Homo sapiens: one gene and its partners. The protein of the gene in region 1 purifies or fractionates together with the protein of each later gene. This does not show direct contact. Each region holds a gene or a part of one and is shown in the gene's direction. Other genes may lie near its edges. The genes, in order: DNAJC10, PDE4DIP, PGAM5, PI4KB, AKAP9, YBX1 and NOTCH3.

Region 1 (2,854 bases):
TGTCCCCCTGGCTGGAGTGCAGTGGTGTGATCTCAGCTCACTGCAACCTCCACCTCCCAGGTTCAAGCGATTCTCCTGCCTCACCCTCCCAAGTAGCTGGGACTGCAGGCATGTGCCACCACGCTGGCTAATTTTTGTATGTTTAACGGAGACAAGGTTTTAGTGTGTTGGCCAGGCTGGTCTCGAACTCTTGACCTCAGGTGATCCGCCTGCCTTGGTCTCCCAAAGTGCTGGGATTACAGGCGTGAGCCACCGCACCCAGCCAATTTTCTTCCTTTTTAAGGCTGAATAATATTCAATTATATATACATTCTACATTTTGTTATTCGTCCGTTGATAGGCTGCCTTCACCCTTTGGCCATTGCAAATAATGCTGCTATAAACATGGGTGTACAAATATCAGAAACCCTGCTTTCAGTTCTTTCAGCTATATACCTAGAAGTGTAAGTCTATATCATAGTAATTCTATTTTTAATATGGGGGGACCTCCATACTGTTTTTCATAGCAGCTGCACCATTTTACATTCCCACCAATAGTGCACAAGAGTTCTGATTTTTCCACATCCTCACCAACACTCATTTTTTTTAAATAGTAGGTATCCCAATGAGTGTGCGTTCATATCCCATTGGAGTTTTGATTTGTACTTTTAGAGTCTTTAAATTATTACTTTTTCCATATCAAAGTACTTTGTGGGAAGTTGGTTATTTTACATTCTCATACCATGCTTTGTATTACTTTCCCATTTGGATGCCCTTTTCATCCTTCACCTCATCCTGTAAACCCAAAATCTAACTTAAATCCCAAATCCAACTTCCACTGTAAAGCCTTTGCTGACTTCTTTACTTCACATTGATTTCTGAATTTCTAAAAGTTCCTCATTGTCTACCACAAAACTAAGTATTTGTTTATAAGAAAAAGCTTTATTTAGTCCTATATTATTCTCTGATTATTCCATATGTTATCTTCCAAACTAGATTGTTAGGTCTTCAAGAGCAGAAGAAATTTATTTTATACTTATAAACTTCAAGATTTGCTGAAGTACTTTGGGTGCTAAATGCTTCTAGCTTATTCGTTTAGTTTACATGACTTTCTGCATGTGAAACTTGAGAAAACTGCAAATCTAATACCTTGGTCTTACAGAACTGAACAATACTTAAATGTGTTTAAACCTGCTATATAAAATGTCAGATGTAAAAGCGAATATCTAATGAAGCACCTTTTCCCTTTTCTAAAATTCAATAGTAAGGGCCAGGCACAGTGGCTCACACCTGAAATCCCAGCGCTTTGGGAGGCCGAGGCGGGTGGATCCCTTGAGGTTAAGAGTTCAAGACCAGCCTGGCCAACATGGTGAAACGCCGTCTCTACTAAAAATACAAAAAAAAATGGCCAGGCGTGGTGGTGCACGCCTGTAATCCCAGCTACTTGGGAGTCTGAGACAGGAAAATCGCTTGAACCCGGGAGGCAGAGGTTACAGTGAGCTGAGGTCACGTCACTGTACTCCAGCCTGGGCAACAAGAGTGAAACTCTATCTCAAAAAAAAAAAAAAAAATTACAATAGTAATAATTATGCCTTCTAACACTAAAATCAAATAACCTTACTTATCAGTTACATTGCCTACTAAGCTGACTTATTTTCTGACTTTTCCTTTGCTTTATTCTCTTATTTCTTCCAAGTAACCATATTCTCTTTTACCCTCCTGTTCAACTGTCTATGCTCCTTCTCTCTTTGTTCACTATTTTGATATTTAAATGTTATGACTTATTTTCAAGTAAATATTTTTTTAATTTCTTCATTTGGGATAAAATATTCACTACATAAATTTAGTGGATAAATACCCCCACAGAGATCGACCCTGCATGAAATGTGTTCCCTCAGAAGTAGGGCAATTCATTCATTATGAGATCAAGCCATAAAATTTAAATCCAAGCAGTAATTCTCCAATTAAAGTAACTCTAGAGCTTAGTTTTCAGTCCTCCTGAATCATAACTAGTTGGCAACAAAAACTAGTATGCCTTGGTGTGAATAAACCTTAACATAGAAACTCACCCAGCCTCAAAAGTTAAAAATTAAGAGAGATATGTATTCAGGTGGCCATTTATACACAATATTTTTGAATACTATTCTGGCCAAATTAGTATAAAATGGGTTACTCTAAAATGAAATTTTAAAAGTATATAAACATCTTAAACTTTAAAACTTCAGCCCAGCTAGAAGTCAACGTGTGTTTCTGAAACTATGCTGGGGAAAGTAGCTCTGTCCATAATGATTATATAGTTGTTAGCAAAATATTGGTCAAAACTTTTTCAGTTTAATGAGTTTCAAGATATTCTTCAAACTGGCCTCTGTGAACTCTTTCTTGACAAGTGAAACCTGGCTCCAACAATGACTACTTTATTCTACCTCTCATTTATTTTCTGTTTAATAAATCCAGTATTTGGGCATACAAACTGTATACAACATTTTATAACACTCTAATGTGGATAAGACACCTCAAAAACAGGAGTTTAGTCATTTCAGTCACATGTTTCTAATACATGATAAGATTTGCAGTTATCGTTTAATTAATTGCAATATGGAAATAGATACTAAAAAATCTAAATTGCATCTTACATTTCAACAATGGATGTTTAAAGCGTTTAAAAGTTATGTTTTGCATTTTACAACATATTGAAGATACACATTTTAAATTTAACTCTAAACAATGCAATAATCTAGAGAATCAGAGAATTGGATCCTGAAACACCTTATAAGTTCAGTCCTGTTGATTAGTATGTTTCCCTGTCCTAGAGTGCATGAACTTTCAAAGCCAGGACACAATCTTGTTCACTTTTCATGCCATCATCTTGACACTC
Region 2 (3,500 bases), on another chromosome or scaffold:
TTAGCCTAGAGGAATCAGGGACATTTATTTTTCTCTGAATTTATGGTGAGTTAGTAGAGAGTCCTGTTTACAAAGACATAGTTACAACCAGAGATATATGGCCACTGAGGTTAAAGTGGTTAAATGATTTGCTGGCATTCACACAACTAGTATGTGTTGTATGAAGGCCTAGTTAATTCCAGTACCTTTACTTATTATGGTGCTGGTGCTTTGCATGTAACACTTCATATTAGGAAAATGCTTGTTTTCAGAATTCTATTATTGAAACATCTTTGGAAGTTGAATTTCCTGTTTAATATTCAGCACTGCTAGCAACTAATTATCTGAATTTTAAGAAGGAAATTCTGCCTTGGCAACTCCAGTCTACTTTTAAATGGGCCTATACTTGGATTTCGGCTTGGGGAATTTGCCAGAATCAATGCTTTCACTCCTACTTGCTTATTTTCCACACACTAGATCAGTCTGGACCTGACTCCCCCAACCCCCATTTTTTCAGCTACATGCTAAGACTATGTTTAAAATACCTAAAGACTGGGAAGGGGTTGTTTTTGTCTCAGAAAGGATAAGTAACACCTCATGGTGCCGTCCCCATCCTGGGAGGCTCGCCTGACTGTGGCTGAGGGATCATATTTTCAAGGCTAAGTGGAGCATCCATCCATTCAGTGGATGCCCCAGGACACTACTTCTATTGAAATCTACCCCATTTTATAAATAAAATTCCAAACTGGGCTCAGAACATTCCACAAGCTGTCTCTGGCAAAAATTCAAATAGCATTTAAAGTTAGAAGAAAGTCCAGAATACAAGAGATGTCATATTGACCCAAGGTGGCTCTATGTGATTCTATTTTAAAACACTCAAATGCACTGAGGACTTGTTTTCCTCTGCCTCAGAGCATTTTCTGAGTTCTGTGGCCAGCAAGACAAGCATGATCTGAATTTCTTTTTTCTGAACGCTTATGGCTAAAGTGCTAAATTAGTCATAGACTATTTATAATAAATTGTATAATAATACTGTTTTATTTTCATAGCACTTTCACAGCCTGTGATTCATCTTTCCTTAATCTGTCTCATTATCTTCAGTCCTTTTCTGCTTGTTACATTCCACAGAAACGTCTTTCTTTCTTGTCTTTTCCAAGGCCAGTGAGGGAAGAGGTAACTTGCAACTAGTGTCTTCTTATCATGGTCATGGTGGAAAGGGTGGAAAGAAGCAATAACTTCTGACATATAGAAAGCATTCACTGGCCAGGCACAGTGGCTCTCGCCTGTAATCCCAGCACTTTGGGAGGCCAAGGCAGGAGGATCACTTGAGGTCAGGAGTTCGAGACCAGCCTGGCCAACATGTTGAAACCCCATCTCTACTAAAGATACAAAAATTAGTGGGCATGGTGGGGGGTGCCTGTAATCCCAGCTAATCGGGAGACCGAGGAATGAGAATTGCTTGAACCCAGGAAGTGGAGGTTGCAGTGAGCCGAGATCACACCACTGCACTCCAGCCTGGGTGACAGAGCAAGACTTTGTCGGAAAAAAAAAAAAAAAAAAAAAAAAAAAAAAAACTAGAAAGCATTGACTCACAAAGAAAATTGAATAATTTCTAGCATTTCACACAATTTAAGAATGAATTTATTTTCCACTTCATAATGTGGTATATTATCATTCATAATGTAGAATAACATGCTGTGGATTTACAGTGTCTTTTAAATCATTACGCCTAACCCAAAGGATGTAGACTTCCAATTTTTAACTATTATAAATAATACTTGATAAATGTCTAGGTGCATAAAGCATCTTCTTCCACAGCATTATTTTTTGAATGAGAGATGTTCAGAAGTAGAATAACTATGTCAACATTTCCAGTTCTTGAAAGTACATTGCAAATTACTTAAAGTTATAGTCCCATAAGAAAGATATTGCATTCAATTTAAATATCTTTTTCAAGACCTGAATCCCTGTATTGTAAAGGGGGAAACTGAGGCACACTGACATTAAAGTGGCATAACCTAGGTGAATCAATAGCAACATTTCCAACTTTTACCCTTCTCTAGGGTAAAATGCTTCACTGTTGCTGTTAATCTCTATTACTATCCTGAAACGTTTCCTGAAATGATAATAAACAGAAAATTTTAACATAAGAAAGTAAAAGATAGATGTAAATTACATCAAAACTATGTATACCTATTAGGATGTCTATTACAAGGACAGAGAAAAGAGAAAATAGATGCCTTGTTTGGTTAGGGGATTATGGGCAACATCCTTTATATGCTGCTTTTAAACTAAGTCAACATAGGTTTTTATTGCAGGAAGAAGTTCACATTTGTGTCTACCAAATGACAACATGTAAAGTTTGGAATTGAGTTGGTTTTAGGTTTTTCTGTGTATCACTTGGAGGTTTTCTGTGTATAACTTTCTTGTATTACTTGGAGATTTTCAGGTTATTGGCACCACAGGAGCAGCATTATTGCCAGCAGACCCGGGGAGCTGGTTGGAGAGTCATTGCGACTTAATTTACCCTGAGCTAAAATTATTATGAGTGGGCCTTAATATACCAGTTGTTCCCACCTACACATCTAGCCTTGCCTTTGCTGGGATAAATTTGTATACCCTTCAGAGGTTAGATTCAGAAGTACCTCCTTTAGGAATTATTTTTAGAACCTAGATCTGGGTGTAGCCAGAACACGCTCTGCCTACTCTGTTGTAGCATGTAGCTAGTTGGTTAACTTGATATTTTCCATACTCCAAGTTTATCGGCAGAATGAAACGTTTTTGTCTATAAGTCTTCAGCATCTAACATTGCCTCTAGCACTTAGAAGGTCATCTATTAAGAGCTTTCCAGAGAACATTCCCCAAAAGGCCGATGGGAATATCTGTTTGGTGGGTGTCTCCTTATTGTAGAATGGATACAACAGGTTATCAAACTTGACACCATTATACATTCAGATTGTATTTATCATTGTTTAAGAAATATGTGTCTTGTTTCCTCAGTTACGGGAAAAGAAAAAAAAAAGAAATACGCATCCAATTCCTATGATCTAGACTTCTTTAATGCTGGACAGATGATAGTGAATGATCTAAAAACCCTCCCTTCCAGAGACTGACATTCTAGAGGGGTCACTAGGCATGGACATACATCACTGTTATACCTTGACCTGACATAGCCTTAACTCGAATTCACTTCAGTATGCTATCAGCACAGCCATCTTTTGTAGCTCATCTTTCTTCCAGATTTTCCACCCTTAGGATCCTTAATGCTGAAATTATACTTCTTGACCACAGGTCAAGTCCCCCACTTCCTCATTCTTTCTGAATGTTGTTTACTGCGTCATGTATTCCAGTTCCTCAACTCTCTGTATCTTCCAGGCCATCTGCTGTTTATTCACCTCCATACTGAACCTAGACGTCAGAGTCAGCTCTTTGAATCGTGTTCTCAACGCTGCTTTAGAATCTCTAACTGCCTTAACCATCTCCCGGCTTGGTAACCCTTAGTCAATTTTATTTTAAAATCC
Region 3 (3,500 bases), on another chromosome or scaffold:
GAGGGTGGAGGAGGGCGTGTTTGCGGGCGGAGGAGGGGGTGTTTGAGGGTGGAGGAGGGGGTGCAGGTGCGGCACTCAGGTGCCTTTCACCTTCCAGGTCGGGAGCAGGCTGAACTCACTGGGCTCCGCCTGGCAAGCTTGGGGTTGAAGTTTAATAAAATCGTCCATTCGTCTATGACGCGCGCCATAGAGACCACCGATATCATCAGCCGGCACCTGCCAGGTGAGTGCTGCGCGCGGGGCCTCCATGCTTGCAGCAGTGGGCGGCTCGTGGCAGGGCCCCGGCCTGAGCTCCTGGCCACCGGGAGGTCACAGCATCTCCGCCGGCGGGGCCGCCTCACCCAGCGCTTCGCTGTGCTTCTCTGCAGGCGTCTGCAAAGTCAGCACAGATCTGCTGCGGGAAGGCGCCCCCATCGAGCCAGACCCGCCCGTGTCTCATTGGAAGCCGGAAGCTGTGGTAAAAACCTCCCCGGGGGGCAGCTGTGTCACCCTCGCCTTCCCTGGGCAAAGCGGCCCTGCTGGGCTCACCATCCACCACGTGCCCGGCCGTCCCACGGGCTTCCCCGGGCGGCGATGGGGTCTGTCCTCCTGACACCCGCCCTGCCCGAGCACTTCCGCACTGACGGCTCCTCACTCTGCCCCCAGCAGTATTACGAAGACGGAGCCCGGATCGAGGCCGCCTTCCGGAACTACATCCACCGCGCAGATGCCAGGCAGGAGGAGGACAGTTACGAGATCTTCATCTGTCACGCCAACGTCATCCGCTACATCGTGTGCAGGTAGGCAGCTGCTGGGCTGGGCGTGGTCTAAAATAATTTCAGACTTAGAGAAAAGCATGAGGAAGAAGCCGAGCGAGACCCTCCTCCACTGCCGATGCCACCCTAGTCAGGCCTCACCAGCCCCCGGGCGTCCACTTCCCGCGAGTCCTAGTCAGTTACGCGGTAGGTGGCGTGTTACTTGGAGCTTCTCATAAGGCTGTTTTGGGCAAGGGTGGTGCAGACAGGGAGGGACCCCTGTGGTGTCCTGGGTGGGGTGCGTGCTGGGTGGGGGGTCCTGAGTGGGGTGCGTGCTGGGTGGGGGTGTCCTGGGTGGGGTGTGTGCTGGGTGGGGGGTCCTGGGTGGGGTGCGTGCTGGGTGGGGGTGTCCTGGGTGGGGTGCGTGCTGGGTGGGGGTGTCCTGGGTGGGGTGCGTGCTGGGTGGGGGTGTCCTGGGTGGGGTGCGTGCTGGGTGGGGGGTCCTGGGTGGGGTGCGTGCTGGGTGGGGGTGTCCTGGGTGGGGTGCGTGCTGGGTGGGGGGTCCTGGGTACGGTGCATGCTGGGCGTCCGCACTGCCCTGGTTGTTTTCCCTTTGTAATTGAACGTCCTGTTTCCCCTCAAACTCGACCAACCACCTTCTGCCTCCGGCTGGATCCCACTGGCAGCATCCCGCCGCTGTTGTCCGCTGGGGATTTTGTGCTTCTGGGGTCCTGACCTCTTTCACTTGCTGATCTGTGGGCGCTCCCACCCGTGTGCCAGCGTGACGGCTCGGGGTGTCCGCTCCCCTCTGGGTCGAGGCCACAGCTGAGTCACGTTGCTGCTCGGGCTGCTCCCTCGGGGGGCCCTTGTCCCTCAACCTGCTCTGGTGCCCCACTCTCAGCACCACAGAATGATCCGGGTTCAGGTTGCGTTTTCCCTGCCACCACCCTGCAATCAGCCACTTCTTTAAGGAGCTCCAGGGCTGCAGCCACGTTAGAGGGCCCCTTGGGGGGCAGGGCCAGCTCTACGGTTACATGCCTGAAACAGTCAGAAGGGTTGGCCAAATCTCACTAAATGCAAATTTGAAACAAATTTGCCTCTTCTCTGGATCCATTAGGAAATGTGTGTGTGGGCTCCGCAGCTGAGGGGGCCCTCTTGAGTGTGACGAGTCCTGTGGTGGGAGGACAGGACGGCACTGGTCAGTGATGCCGTGTGAGGCTGGGCCCTGGTCTCTGCCCGTCTGTCACCTGGGCCTGTCACCAGGGCTGGGGCTGCTGGGAGCACCATGGTCAAGAGCAGCAGCTCCCAGAAAGTCGAGGATGTACGGGCCGAGATTCTCAAGCTTGGCTCCAGACCAGATAGAGCTTTTCTGGGGGTTGGAGCCTCCGGGTGGTGTGGCCTCAGGCTAAGTGAGTACCTGTTTGCTGTGAGTCGTTCGTTGCCTCCTGTCTGTGCTTGTGAATGAGCCATATGGGTGGCTTCTATGCTGCCACCACCACCTTGTGTGTCCATGACACAGTCACCCCGAGGTGACACAAATGCTAAAAATGCACAGAAATAACCGGGGCGGGAGAGTGGAGCCGACCTGAGTCCACACAGTGGTGAGGGCCAGGCACGTGCACCTGGACACGAGAATATGGCTGTGCTGTTCCGGCCGGTGCCGCCAGGCAGCCCTGAGGAGGCTCGGGAAGCAGCGTGAGGGTGGCCATGCGGCCCACTGAGACAGGGCGGTGGGTGGCTCAGAGGCGATGAAGGCAACTCCGAGCTTTTCCGCAAATGCGAATTGTGCCTAAGAAGTGCATGAAGATGCCACGGCGGGTAGATCCCATCTCCGTTCTTTGCTTTCCCAGAAAGGGACCTGTTGCACTAACTGGCTGCTCCCTGCTTTTATATGGGAAAAGCAGAAATTAAACTGTGTTTCCTCGTAAGAAGTCAGCGTTGTTCTGATCTGTGCAAATCTTGAGTTGGGGTTGGGCCCCTGTCCTAAAGAGGGCAGGTCCCCAAGTGTGATGGCTCCATTCATGTCGATCCCAGTCATCGATTCACGTCGATCCCAGCCAGATCTTCCCCGAGAAGCCCCGACTGAAGACAGGAGCGGCTCGGCTGATGTGTACCCCGGCCCTGAGGCTGCTCTGAGACTTCTGAGGGGCTCAGCCTCTGTTTGTAGAACAGAGCCCCCTGGCACAGCCTGGCCCAGCCTCTTTTAAGGACAGAGTCCCCTGGCTCTAGCCCAGCCCGTTTTTTTTTTTTTAGACAGAATCTCGCTCTGTCACCCAGGCTGGAGTGCAGTGGCGCGATCTCAGCTCACTGCAAGCTCCGCCTCCCGGGTTCACGCCATTCTTCTGCCTCAGCCTCCCAAGTAGCTGGGACTACAGGTGCCTGCTATCACGCCCAGCTAATTTTTTGTATTTTTAGTAGAGATGGGGTTTCACCGTGTTAGCTGGGATGGTCTCGATCTCCTGACCTTGTGATCCACCCGCCTGGCCTCCCAAAGTGCTGGGATTACAGGTGTGAGCCACCATGCCCGGCCTAGCTCAGCCCGTTTTAAGGACAGAGCCCCCTGGCTCTAACGTGCTCTTTCTCTCTCTCTCTCTCTCCCCAGAGCACTGCAGTTTCCTCCTGAAGGCTGGCTCCGGCTCTCCCTCAATAATGGCAGCATCACCCACCTGGTGATCCGACCCAACGGCCGAGTTGCGCTCAGGACCCTCGGGGACACGGGGTTCATGCCTCCCGACAAGATCACTCGATCCTGAGGGCTCCGGCCTC
Region 4 (3,500 bases), on another chromosome or scaffold:
TTTTAGTAGCGACGGGGTTTCGCCATCTTGGCCAGGCTGGTCTTGAACTCCTGACCTCATGATCCACCCGCCTCGGCCCCCCAAAGTGCTAGGATTACAGGCGTGAGCCACCGCGCCCGGCCCATATTCTTCTTTCAAAGGAAATACTGAAGTTTGGGACACTCCTTGGGACAGTGCCCAGCTTTGTCCCAGTCTTTTTGTCCACTGTAGCTCCCTGGGCCCTGTCTTCAGGACGAGCCCACAGAGGCATCTAGGCCTCCCTTACAGCCTGTAATTGATAGTCTAGAGTGGTTTGGCCCAAGCACATCATCTGTACATTTTGGAGCTCAGTTGAAATATTTTGAAGACTTAAGGATTCTGTCACACAAATTCTTTACATAGGTGATCATAGGACAAGTATCTGCCCTAAATATAGTGTTCATAGTTTCAGAGGACTATTGGATGAAGGCTGGAGCTAGGAGAAAGGACAGCAGGAAGAACCTTGCTAACAGAGTTGAGATTTGGGGGTTAGTGGTGGAAGTAAGTTGCAAATACTGTCTCACTCTTCCCCCAGGCTCCCTACCTGATTTATGTGGAAGTCCTTGAATGTGAAAACTTTGACACCACCAGTGTCCCTGCCCGGATCCCCGAGAACCGAATTCGGAGTACGAGGTCCGTAGAAAACTTGCCCGAATGTGGTATTACCCATGAGCAGCGAGCTGGCAGCTTCAGCACTGTGCCCAACTATGACAACGATGATGAGGCCTGGTCGGTGGATGACATAGGCGAGCTGCAAGTGGAGGTGAGAGGGCTTCAGGGAGGTAATGCTGGGTCACAGGAGCTTTCTCCAGGAGCTTTCACTATATTGGAAACAAGACAGCATATCCCAAGGCAGGGTAAGGCAAGTATCCTAATGAGTGGTGTAGGTAGTGAGGGGTAATATGGGGAAAGCTCTGAACAACTCTAGCCTGGAATAGATTCAGGTGGAGTTCATTTTCCAGGTGAAGGATTCAGATTTAAATGTAAAGAGGAGCTTCTAGGCCAAGGGGAGTGAGGGAAATTTAATGAAAATATTTATTGAACACCTACATAAAGTTGTCATAGAATAGCAGAGGATGAGAAGTCATACATTAATTCATTCAAGAAATTTTTATTGAGGGCCTTCTATGTGCCAGACCTGAGTGCTGTATGCTAGTGAACAAGACTTGGCCCCTGCCTACAAGGGATTTATGACCTAACTGGAAAGAGAACAAGGCCAGTAAGCAAGTAGTTGTAGTGTGGTGAGAGTCAAGTCATGGGGGAAAGGATAGGACATTATAAGAGCACCAGACTTGGGGCGGGCATCACAAGAGATTTCCTGGAGGAAGTAATCTCTCAGCTGAGGCTGGAAGCATGGGTAGGAATTAGCTGGACAAAGAGTGCTGGACAGAGGGAACACTGCATGCAAAGGCCAGAAGACAAGAGGGAGCTTGGGCCATTATAGGAATTGAAAGAAATTTTGCCTGGCTGTGATGTGCAGGTGTGAGGTAAGAAGTGGTGAAGAATAAGACTGGACACGTGGGCATGGACCAGACTATAGGAAGGACCCTGTAAGCTGGGGAAAGAAACTTGAACTTTATTCTGGGGCATGAAGAGCCAGAGCAGAATTTTGTGTAGAGCTATTAACACAGCTGGCCAGGCGCAGTGGCTCACACCTGTAATCCCAACACTTTGGGAGGCCGAGGTGGGTGGATCGCTTGAAGTCAGGATTTCGAGACCAGCCTGGCCAACAAGGTGAAACTCCATCTCCACTAAAACTAGAAAAATTATGCCGGGTGCGGTGGCGCACGCCTGTAATCCCAGCACTTTGGGAGGACAGGGCGAGCAGATCACCTGAGGTCAGGAGTTCGAGACCAGCCTGGCCAACATGGTGAAACCCCGTCTCCACTAAAAATACAAAAATTAGCCGGGCGTGGTGGCATGTGCCTGTAATCCCAGCTAATCGGGAGGCTGAGGCAGTAGAATTATTCGAACCCAGGAGGCGGAGGTTGCAGTGAACCAAGATCACGCCACTGCACTTCAGCCTGGGTGACAAGCAAAATTCCGTCTCAAAAGAAAAAAAAAAAAAAGCCAGGTGTGGTGGAACATGCCTGTAATCCCAGCTACTCGGGAGGCAAGTGATTCTTGAAGCACAAGAATCACTTGAACCTGGGAGGCGGAGGCTGCAGGGAGCTGAGATCACAGCACTGCACTCCAGCCTGGGTGACAGAGTGAGACTCTGTCTTAAAACAAAACAAAACAAAAACACAGCCAGGGCCAGGCGCGGTGGCTCACGCCTGCAATCCCAGCACTTCGGGAGGCTGAGGTGGGCAGATCACCTGAGGTCAGGAGTTCAAGAACAGCCTGACTAACATGGTGAAACCCCGTTCCTACTAAAAATACAAAAAATTAGCCAGGCATGGTGGCGCGCGCCTGTAATCCCAGCTACTCAGAAGGCTGAGGCAGGAGAATCGCTTGAACCTGGGAGGCGGAGGTCGCAGTGAGCCGAGATCACACCATTGCACTCCAGCGTGGGCAACAAGAGCGAAACTCCGTCTAAAAAAAAAAAAAAAAAACACACAGCCAGGTTTCACTTTGCCAAAAGGCAGAATCTCTGTCTTTGAGCTTATAGTCCAATTGCAGAAATTAGACATTTAAGAAAAAAAAATTTAGATATACAACAAAGCAGTGTGTACTAGGTGACAAATGGAGTTGAGAAGAAATGCTCTGGTATGAAGGACAGAAGAGACTTGACATGGGCCTTGGGGTCTGGTAGAATATTCTGTATTTAGAGAGAGATGAGAAGATAAGATTGAATGACTTAGATTGAAGAAACTGTCAGAAGCTAGTCTGCAAAGAGTCTGCTTTGGACCCTAGGGGAGAACGCATCCCTATCCTTGGGGGACTCTCAGTGAGGCTGAAATTTTGAGCTCCTGTAATGGTCATGGCAGTGGTTTGCAAACTTTAGTGCATTGGAAGTCTTCTGGAGAACTTGTTAAAAATTCAGACTTTCAGATCCCATTCCTAGTAATTATAATTCAGATTGATGGTGGGGCCTGGGAATCTGCATTCTGGGTAATTCTACTGCAGGTAGTTCACATGTTGAGAAATGCTGCTCTGGGCAGCCTGGGGTCCCAGTAACCAACATGGTGTGTAAGCAGAGTTTGAAAGAGAGGGATGAGCATGCTGCAGTGATAGCAAGCAAGCAGGAGGGGAAAGACGGGAGACCTATACTTTAGCACTTCTGACCAGCACTCCCCTTTCTCCAGCTCCCCGAAGTGCATACCAACAGCTGTGACAACATCTCCCAGTTCTCTGTGGACAGCATCACCAGCCAGGAGAGCAAGGAGCCTGTGTTCATTGCAGCAGGGGACATCCGGTATGGCCAGATCACATTGCCCCTCATTTTTCATCCCTCTTTCAGGAACTTCCCATCTCTTTGTTACCTTCCTCTCCATCTCAATCATCTGTTGTTGGCCTGTGTCTTTCCCTCTTTCATTCTG
Region 5 (3,156 bases), on another chromosome or scaffold:
CCAAAAAAAAAAAAAAAGAAAAAAAATATACATAACCTAAGGCTTAATGTAAAAATGTAAAAACCAGTGTTTAAATTTGTAACTGATTTCCAAGGGTATAGCAAACAAGCTGACCAAGTGTTATTTAGTGTATGCTATGGTTAGATATTGGGAAAAGTATTGACTAAAATTGATACTCTGATCATTATGAAAAGCTTAACAGTCTTCATGACAAGATACATTTATACATACCCAATTTATTGAGACCTCTGCCACAAGCATTGTATTGGACATTCTTATGTTGACTTAGTAGCATCTTTGAATTCATTGGAGAGTTGTCTCTTTCTCATCCCAAGCTCCAAAGCTGAAGCTTGGAGGAGATACATTATGTGTGTACAAGTGACCCACCTTTTTGGGGAAGGGAGTGGAGGCAGGTTGGTAACTTATATGCATATTTCTGGATAACTTGATTCATGTACATATTTTTAATCCTTTAGGTACCCAGGCACTCCAGCTGATTTCAATCCTGGTTCTTTAGCATGTTCTCAGCTTCAGAATTACGATCCTGACAGAGCCCTAACAGATTATATCACTCGGCTAGAGGCACTGCAAAGACGACTTGGAACTATACAGTCAGGTGCTCTGAGTTTAACCACATCTTGGCAGCACCACAGTGCGAGACCCACAGCTCCCCTTTCTTTGAAATTCTTTCACACTCATTAGGATAATCAAAGCTTCCAGTTTAGTGCATGAGCTAATTATTAAGTTAGCCAAAGCTTAAACTCTTGTAACCAGCAGAGAAACTGACTTTAAATAATTTAAGTGAAAATATGATTTATCACCCCAGATCCCACTCCTCCCAAAAATGATTTCCTACTATGTTCATTCAGCGGACTGATGACACAAAATGCACAATGAGCACCAGTGTGCAAGGTACTCTGAGTCTACAGAGCCTAACTGGAGAACGTATTCCTAAGTAGCGCATGGCAGAAAGTGGTAAGGCCGTGCCGCAGCACTCCAGCCTGGGCAGCAGAGCGAGACCCTGTCTCAAAGAAAAAAAAAAAAAAAAGAAAGTGGTAAGGCATGCAAATCGGGTGGAGTTAAGGAGGAAGCACTTACTTTAAGCACTTAATGTAACCATTATCCCTGCTACTATATTGTGCTTTTATGTATCATCGAAAAAAACTATCCCATTTAAAATACTTTGTAAGGATTATTTTTTCTTTGTTCAAAAACAAAAAACAAGTCATACTTTAAAATAAAGGTGGATTCCCTGTTCATGGAAGGAAAACCTCTTTTCCCTATCTCACTTCAGTTCACTCCTGATTCAGAGACTTTGAATCATTGAGTAGTTTATCTCTTCCTTCAAGAAATCATTTGTTTACACCCAAGCATCTTGTAGTAATAGGAAACTTTTATTATCATAGCTGAGTTTGTTGGTTTGCCTAGGCTTGTTTTGTTTTGAGCATCCAAATTTCACAAGACCCAGATTTTGAAGACCAAAAGATTTTTCAAAAATGTATGAGGTATAGAACATCCAACTTTGAGAGCACTTTAAAAAAACTCTAAATATTAGTCTCACCTACCTTGCCATAGAGCCAGTCATGGTGATTTTTACATATATATTCAAAATCTCTTAAAAGTCAGCTTAAGTATATGGGCTGGGCGCGGTGGCTCATGCCTGTAATCCCAGCACTTTGGGCGGCCGAGGCAGGCGGATCACTAGGTCAGGAGTTCAAGACCAACCAGTTCGAGACTAGCCTGGCCAACATGGTGAAACCCCGTCTCCACTAAAAATACAAAAATTTGCTGGACATGGTGGCATGTGTGGATAGTCCCAGCTACTCAGGAGGCTGAGGCAGGAGAATCACTTGAACCCAGGAGGCGGGGGTTGCAGTGAGCCAAGATCACACCACTGAATTCCAGCCTGGGCAACAGAGTAACACTCCACCTTGGGGGTAGTGGGGAGAGACTCAGTTTAAGTATGAAGAGGACATTTTAAGGAAAAAAAGGGCTTTAAAAAAATGGAGAATAATAATAATTTCCTTTGTGTGAACTCTGGTGGGTCTGATACAGGTAGCAATGTAATTTGAAATCAGTTGAATTTCCTGTTTTTCTCTCATAGGTTCAACTACTCAATTTCATGCTGGCATGAGAAGATAATCCTTTGAAACATCATTAATTGAAGTGATTTTAAATAGATTTCCTTTTGTAAATCAATGGTTCTTTTGTGCTTTTGTATTGTGAATATTCAATGGGACCAATATGAACACAGCTTATGATTGTATACAAATCCCTTGCCAGCACATGAAAACAAACTGGAATTTGTATATATAAGCATTGTGTATGTATTCATGCACAATAATTATTGAATTACCTGTATATTTGTGGAATGCTAATTTAAAACATTAAATTATAAACCTTGTGTATTTATCAAATGGGTGAAAAGATTAAACTTTTACGCATTACAATACTGCTGAATGTGTAGCTCGAGGTGTCCTGCACTTTTCTTATAAGGCTACTGAAGTTACATGTTTTGCCTAATATATTCTACTGGTGATGAAGACAGATAATATCACTTGTAGAGACCTATTTTTGTATAATGGTAGAAGTTTTGAATTTTATGGGGTATTTTGTCAAGTACTGAAATAAAAATGACTTCACCATTTTCACCACACTGTATTTGAACCTTCTTCATTTTTAACTGAGCCATAGTTCTTGGTACATAGCATCTCATTACTTATGTCAAATATGTAGGAGTGAGAGATTCAGAGAAAGTTGTCCTAATCTTAGAGTTAATACTGTTGAAAGTTTTCCATGTGTCTTTGTATCAACTTTACATCTACATAGTGTTTTTTAAAAGCTATATTGGTATTTCATGATTAATCAGTATTTACTATATTACAGTTAGTGTTACTTGTTTCCAAAGATGTGTTCTCACAAATCCATGGCCCACTAAAAAGATGAAGAAATCATTAACTCAAAAGATCTTAATCACATTGCAGCCGAATTAAACAGTATCCCTGTTGTCCAAGCCAAATTCAGACTGGGAGGCTCTCACAGAGATAATACAGATCGCAATGTTATTTCTCATCTGGAGTCCTCCTCAATAACATGGCAACTCACTAAAACAGCAAGAGGACTAGTATTTGATGCTTACACCTGGAGGATTTTGTC
Region 6 (2,444 bases), on another chromosome or scaffold:
GATGGCAAGAGATCTGTTAATGTCTCCCAATACACAAGTAATGTAAACTAGGGCATGTACTACACTAAATGAAGATCACCATGAATTCTACATGATCATCTTTATTTTTTTCTTTACAGTTTAGTCATCCAACAAGAAGAAATATGAAATTCCAGCAATAAGAAATGAACAAAAGATTGGAGCTGAAGACCTAAAGTGCTTGCTTTTTGCCCGTTGACCAGATAAATAGAACTATCTGCATTATCTATGCAGCATGGGGTTTTTATTATTTTTACCTAAAGACGTCTCTTTTTGGTAATAACAAACGTGTTTTTTAAAAAAGCCTGGTTTTTCTCAATACGCCTTTAAAGGTTTTTAAATTGTTTCATATCTGGTCAAGTTGAGATTTTTAAGAACTTCATTTTTAATTTGTAATAAAAGTTTACAACTTGATTTTTTCAAAAAAGTCAACAAACTGCAAGCACCTGTTAATAAAGGTCTTAAATAATTGTCTTTGTGTAAATTTGTCTAGTTTTGCTTTAGTTTGTAAGTATTTAGCTATTTATAGGACCCTTAGCTTGACCCAGTCTACAAATAGATGATGCTCACTGGTAATTCCCTCAGGTAAAATGTCTCAAAATCTCTAATCCTTTAAGTGGCATGCCTGTGGGCCCATACTAAAAATTAGAAAATACATACTCTGATAACCTGGCCATTTTTCATTGAAGGATTTAGCTCATTTGTAAGAAAGACTTGAGTGTAGATTTTGGGTGGGTCCCTTTGGCTGTGAGGCATTGTTTAAAAGGGCATTGCTCTAGCCTAGACCGACCAGACTCTCATCCTGCTCCACTTAGTTTTGTCACCTTGGGAGAATTTGTTTCAGTGTGTCAATTGAAGATGCCAATTGAAGTGTTAGGACAACCTGTCACACTGCCTGGTGTGGTCATCAAATATTGGTTCAGCTCCTTATGTCCTAGAGATGGAAACAAGTAATATAAAACCCATGGGAAAGCTGCTTAGGAACATGGAGGTTGGTGAGCTTGTAATTATGTGGTTCTCAACACCTTAAATCCTAAGCCTAGTCTGGCTGATCTTTTCTCTTTTTGAGACGGAGTCTTGTTCTGTCATCAGGCTGGAGTACAGTGGCACAATCTTGGCTCACTGCAACCTCCACCTCTAGGTTTAAGCGATTCTCCTGCCTCGGCCACCTTAGTAGCTGGGAGTACAGGTGCGTGCCACCACACCCAGCTAATTTTTGTATTTTTAATAGAGATGGGGTTGCACTGTGTTAGCCAGGATGGTCTTGATCTCTTGACCTTGTGATCCGCCCGCCTCAGCCTCCCAAAGTGCTGGGATTACAGGTGTGAGCCACCGCACCTGGCCTCTCTGGCTTTTGTTTTCTAATGTTTTGTTAGATGTTCTTTGGCTTGCTTTGTGAAATAGTCATGTAGTTGATAGTGACTGCTGCCCCGAAACACTCCAGATCATCCTGGCCAGCTATCAGGGCCCAGGGGAAGCAGACAGTAGGGGTCGGGAGTAGGCCAGAGTGGCACATCAGGAATCCTGCAGTGCTGTGGAAGTCATCTCCTGCTTGGGACTAACTCTTTGCAGAGGACTTGATAAGAGACTACTCAAAAAAAATTTTTTTAACCCTACTTAGTGTAAATATCTGTACTGCAGAAGTGAGTTAGCCTATTTCTTGCTGGTGTTCATGAAAATACTGTGTTGGCAAGAGTGCAGTGGACCTGAAACTTCAACTGTTGGTAGCATCTAAACTGTTACTTACAACTGCAGACGCACACAGTCCCTGACTTAAACAGTGGTTTGACTTAGGGGCTTTTAGTGGGGTTACGGTTTCTACTGAATCAACATTGTTTTCATGGCATCACAGAGTTGAAAAATCATAAATGAAACCATTGTAAGTTGACTGCAGTGTTGCCAACATTAAATGCAGTTTCAACTTAATGATTTTCTGACTTGTGGTTTATGGGGACATTGACCCATCATAAATTGAAGAGCATCTGTATTAGGATATCATGGAAATGGGAAGACCAAAAACATTGGTTAAACATCCAATAATGTTAGAATGAGATTCTCGAAAACACATTGAGGAGGACAGTTGTTTGGGGGAATACAATCTTAGGTGCTAGTGTTGGAAACAGAACTACGTACATGTTTTTAGATACTGTCTCCTGTTCTGTTGCCCAGTATTTTGTGTACTTACGGATTATTTGTAAGGACTACAGAGGCTATACATCTCAAAAACTACCCAGAAAACTTGCAGCCAAGATCAAGGTTTAGAACCTGTTCTGCCAATCAGATACACCAACATGAGACCTGGAGACATTGCTAGGAAGCTATGCAAACTCCTTTTGCTAGCGAGGGTAGTCGCTGTGCTTTGGTGATGCTGCAGCAGCAATGGTTTCCTCCTATCTGCCTCACCTAGATGGTGACACTGAGCCTGG
Region 7 (3,500 bases), on another chromosome or scaffold:
TAATCCCAGCACTTTGGGAGGCCAAGATGGGAGGATCGCTTGGGCCCAGGACTTTGAGACCAGCCTGGACAACATAGTGAGTTTTTGTCATCTCTACAAAAACTTGGTAGGCTGGGTGTGGTGGCTCACGCCTGTAACCCCAACACATTGGGAGGCCCAGGCGGGTAGATTGCTTGAGCTCAGCAGTTTGAGACCAGCCTGGGCAACATGGCAAAACCCTATCTCTACCAAAAATACAAAAAATTAGCTGGGCATGGTAGCGCATGCCTGTAGTCCCAGCTACTCTGGATGCTAAGGTTGAAGGATGGCTTGAGCCCAGAAGGTGGAGGTTGCAGTGAGCTGAGACTGAGCCACTGCGTTCCAGCCTGGGAGACAGTGTAAGACCGTGTATAACAAAAAAGAGAGAGAAAAAAAGATGATGCTGGAGGCAGCTTTAGTGGGGAAGTGTAAGCCTGGGAGAGGCTTGGGAGGAGGCTGACATTGCACTGATGCATGGCTCAGGGCAGAAGCCATTGGAATGGGGAACTCCTGGGAGTTACCTTTGGAAGTGGCAAAGATCAGAGAACATGTTTAGGAGGGGAACGTGGATATAGAAAGAGGGCATACATGGCAGAGGGTATTACAGAAGCAAAGGCTGGAGTGTAGGACCCTTTTGTAATCAGAAGAGTCAAAAGGTTTTAAAACAATATGTGGATGTTTGCAATTTATTTTATTTTATTTTTGAGACAGAGTCTCACTTTGTCACCCAGGCTGGAGTACAGTGGCATGATCTCAGCTCACTGCAGCCTCGACTTCCTGGGCTCAAGTGATCCTCCCACCTCAGTCCCCCAAGTAGCTGGGATTACAGGCGTGCGCCACCATGCCCGGCTAAGCTTTGTATTTTTTGTAGAGACGGGTCTCACTATATTGCCCAGGCTGGTCTTGAACTCTTGAACTCAAGCGATGCACTCACCTTGGCCTCCCAAAGTGCTAGGATTATAGACGTGAGCCACTGTGCCCGGTCTGCAATTTATTTTTAAATGGTTTAGAAAAGAAGATTGGTAGATTAAGCTAACAATAGTTGAATCTAGGTGGTGGGTATATGAATGGTCAACTTTTCTGTATGTTTGATAGTTCTCATAATAAATGGATTAAAAAAGCAGCTACTAAATACTGTTTAGGTTTAATAAAAACAACAGGCCGGGCGCGGTGGCTCACGCCTGTAATCCCAGCACTTTGGGAGGCTGAGGCAGGCAGATCACCTGAGGTCAGGAGTTTGAGACCAACCTGGCTAACTTGGTGAAACCCCGTTTCTACTAAAAATACAAAAAATTAGCCGGGCGTGGTGGCACATGCCTGTAATCCCAGCTACTCGGGAGGCTGAGCAGGAGAATCGCTTGAACCTGGGAGGTGGAGGTTACAGTGAGCCAAGATCGCGCTATTGTACTCCAGCTTGGGCAACAAGAGCGAAACTTCGTCTCAAAAAACAAAACAAAACAACAACAACGACAAAACAATACTCAAGGGGTGTGGGCCTTTTGGGCAGAGCAGGAAGATCTGCCTATGACTTCTGCTTACCACTTCCCAGGCCTCCTGTGTCACCTGGATGACGCCTGTGTCAGCAACCCCTGCCACGAGGATGCTATCTGTGACACAAATCCGGTGAACGGCCGGGCCATTTGCACCTGTCCTCCCGGCTTCACGGGTGGGGCATGTGACCAGGATGTGGACGAGTGCTCTATCGGTGAGGGGAGCTCCATCGTCTGTGAATGGGCTGGGAAAGAGGGGAGAGGAGGGGGTCCCGGCCAGCCACGCCCACACCGATCGCACTCCATCCGGCAGGCGCCAACCCCTGCGAGCACTTGGGCAGGTGCGTGAACACGCAGGGCTCCTTCCTGTGCCAGTGCGGTCGTGGCTACACTGGACCTCGCTGTGAGACCGATGTCAACGAGTGTCTGTCGGGGCCCTGCCGAAACCAGGCCACGTGCCTCGACCGCATAGGCCAGTTCACCTGTATCTGTATGGCAGGTGGGTGGTGGGCGTGGCCTGGGCGGGTCCTGAGGCAGGGGGCGGGGACAGAGAAGCCCGCGGATGGGGAGCTGAGCAGAATGGGGTGTAAGTGGGTTTGGAGTGGGACCCTTAGAGACTGAAGCCTGGAAGGAGGTGGGGTCAGGACCAGAAGGGAATACTGTGTGATTCTGGGGGCTTGGTCAAATGGAGTCAGTAGAACCTCAGGTGGGCTGGGAGTATTCTTGGCCTTAGGACCCACTCGGGAAGGGGTTGGGGATAGAGAGGCAGAGTCGGGGCTGCTGTGAGGTCAAGGTGAAGCCTGCAGACAAGCTTGCAGTAAGCCTGGGCAAAGGCTATGGGGGGCCCTGGGGCTGGGGGCTGGGGACTGGGGAAAGGGCTTAGTCTGAGGACTGGGGAGAGGAGGAGGGGTTTGAAGGCAAGGCCTCTGCGGACACCCATGAGCCTTGGGCCAGTTGGGACCACGGCTGGGTGACAGTCCAGCCTGTGGCTGAAAATTAAGGTTGGGCTGGGAGTGTAGAGGTGGGGACGAAGGCTCGGGGGATTTGTCGATGAGTAGGAAGGGAAGTACCTCCTTCCTTGCACCCCGTTCACACCATAGGGTAGCCCCCGCTTTCCTAAGCCCTATTCCCTGCCCCAGGCTTCACAGGAACCTATTGCGAGGTGGACATTGACGAGTGTCAGAGTAGCCCCTGTGTCAACGGTGGGGTCTGCAAGGACCGAGTCAATGGCTTCAGCTGCACCTGCCCCTCGGGTGAGGACCTCAGGAGAGGGAGCCCGAAAAGACATGTCTGGGAAGGGGCAAAAACTCCAGGGTGGGAACCTGTAAAACCACGTTAGCGGATAACTTACAATAGAAACCATATGTTATGAAACATTGAAGTTAATTTAAATCCAAGTAAATGGGTTTTTCCACCCAAACAAGGCGGGGCTGGAGAGGGGTGTACTGCTCTCACCCTTTCTGGGCCTCTGCTCATCCCACTCCCCACCCCAGGCTTCAGCGGCTCCACGTGTCAGCTGGACGTGGACGAATGCGCCAGCACGCCCTGCAGGAATGGCGCCAAATGCGTGGACCAGCCCGATGGCTACGAGTGCCGCTGTGCCGAGGGTGAGGCGGGCCAATGACAGTCCGACAAGAATCAGGAGGCGGGGCTTGTGGGCGACAGGGCCAATAACAGACTTGGGGAGAGCTTGGGGGCGGGGTTGTAGCAAGGCAGGACCCAGTGACAGAGTTGGGGGGTGGAGCCAATAATGCATATAGACTGACATAAGGCTACGTGTGGAGCCAAAGTGTTGGGCTGGGCACAGGGTGCCTGTAACTGAATGGGGAGGGCCCAATACCTTCCCCTGGCACCTGCCATGTGCTCCCATCTCCAGTGGAGGGTGGGGCAGAAACAGGGCTGGAGGTGGGGCCACAGCTGGGGGCGGGATTTAACTGTGGGAGAGTCTTGGCTAGGGACAAATTCTGGAGCTTGTAGTGGGGTGGAGTGGAA

The links.
Region 2: the proteins of DNAJC10 (region 1) and PDE4DIP purify together in Homo sapiens (co-immunoprecipitation; 2 studies listed by BioGRID and IntAct, with this or other methods). This does not show direct contact.
Region 3: the proteins of DNAJC10 (region 1) and PGAM5 fractionate together in Homo sapiens (co-fractionation; one large-scale study listed by BioGRID). This does not show direct contact.
Region 4: the proteins of DNAJC10 (region 1) and PI4KB purify together in Homo sapiens (affinity purification with mass spectrometry; 2 studies listed by BioGRID and IntAct, with this or other methods). This does not show direct contact.
Region 5: the proteins of DNAJC10 (region 1) and AKAP9 purify together in Homo sapiens (affinity purification with mass spectrometry; 2 studies listed by BioGRID and IntAct, with this or other methods). This does not show direct contact.
Region 6: the proteins of DNAJC10 (region 1) and YBX1 purify together in Homo sapiens (co-immunoprecipitation; one large-scale study listed by IntAct). This does not show direct contact.
Region 7: the proteins of DNAJC10 (region 1) and NOTCH3 purify together in Homo sapiens (affinity purification with mass spectrometry; 2 studies listed by BioGRID and IntAct, with this or other methods). This does not show direct contact.

The regions. Positions count from the first base shown.
Region 1 is NC_000002.12:182,789,257-182,792,110, forward strand, and holds part of DNAJC10 (dnaJ homolog subfamily C member 10 isoform 1 precursor), read left to right. Parts: 3' UTR 1-2,854. UniProt on the Homo sapiens protein: Endoplasmic reticulum disulfide reductase involved both in the correct folding of proteins and degradation of misfolded proteins.
Region 2 is NC_000001.11:148,850,928-148,854,427, forward strand, and holds part of PDE4DIP (myomegalin), read left to right. Parts: intron 1-3,500. UniProt on the Homo sapiens protein: Functions as an anchor sequestering components of the cAMP-dependent pathway to Golgi and/or centrosomes.
Region 3 is NC_000012.12:132,717,342-132,720,841, forward strand, and holds part of PGAM5 (serine/threonine-protein phosphatase PGAM5, mitochondrial), read left to right. Parts: intron 1-97; coding exon 98-223; intron 224-368; coding exon 369-457; intron 458-645; coding exon 646-779; intron 780-1,420; coding exon of another isoform or gene 1,421-1,469; exon of another isoform or gene 1,470-1,826; intron 1,827-3,336; coding exon 3,337-3,487; 3' UTR 3,488-3,500. UniProt on the Homo sapiens protein: Mitochondrial serine/threonine phosphatase that dephosphorylates various substrates and thus plays a role in different biological processes including cellular senescence or mitophagy. Modulates cellular senescence by regulating mitochondrial dynamics.
Region 4 is NC_000001.11:151,303,417-151,306,916, reverse strand, and holds part of PI4KB (phosphatidylinositol 4-kinase beta), read left to right. Parts: intron 1-553; coding exon 554-781; intron 782-3,266; coding exon 3,267-3,376; intron 3,377-3,500. UniProt on the Homo sapiens protein: Phosphorylates phosphatidylinositol (PI) in the first committed step in the production of the second messenger inositol-1,4,5,-trisphosphate (PIP). May regulate Golgi disintegration/reorganization during mitosis, possibly via its phosphorylation.
Region 5 is NC_000007.14:92,108,018-92,111,173, forward strand, and holds the end of AKAP9 (A-kinase anchor protein 9), read left to right. Parts: intron 1-476; coding exon 477-616; intron 617-2,104; coding exon 2,105-2,142; 3' UTR 2,143-2,656; downstream 2,657-3,156. UniProt on the Homo sapiens protein: Scaffolding protein that assembles several protein kinases and phosphatases on the centrosome and Golgi apparatus. Required to maintain the integrity of the Golgi apparatus. Required for microtubule nucleation at the cis-side of the Golgi apparatus.
Region 6 is NC_000001.11:42,701,862-42,704,305, forward strand, and holds the end of YBX1 (Y-box-binding protein 1), read left to right. Parts: intron 1-119; 3' UTR 120-1,944; downstream 1,945-2,444. UniProt on the Homo sapiens protein: DNA- and RNA-binding protein involved in various processes, such as translational repression, RNA stabilization, mRNA splicing, DNA repair and transcription regulation.
Region 7 is NC_000019.10:15,187,496-15,190,995, reverse strand, and holds part of NOTCH3 (neurogenic locus notch homolog protein 3 precursor), read left to right. Parts: intron 1-1,567; coding exon 1,568-1,723; intron 1,724-1,821; coding exon 1,822-2,007; intron 2,008-2,647; coding exon 2,648-2,761; intron 2,762-3,001; coding exon 3,002-3,115; intron 3,116-3,500. UniProt on the Homo sapiens protein: Functions as a receptor for membrane-bound ligands Jagged1, Jagged2 and Delta1 to regulate cell-fate determination.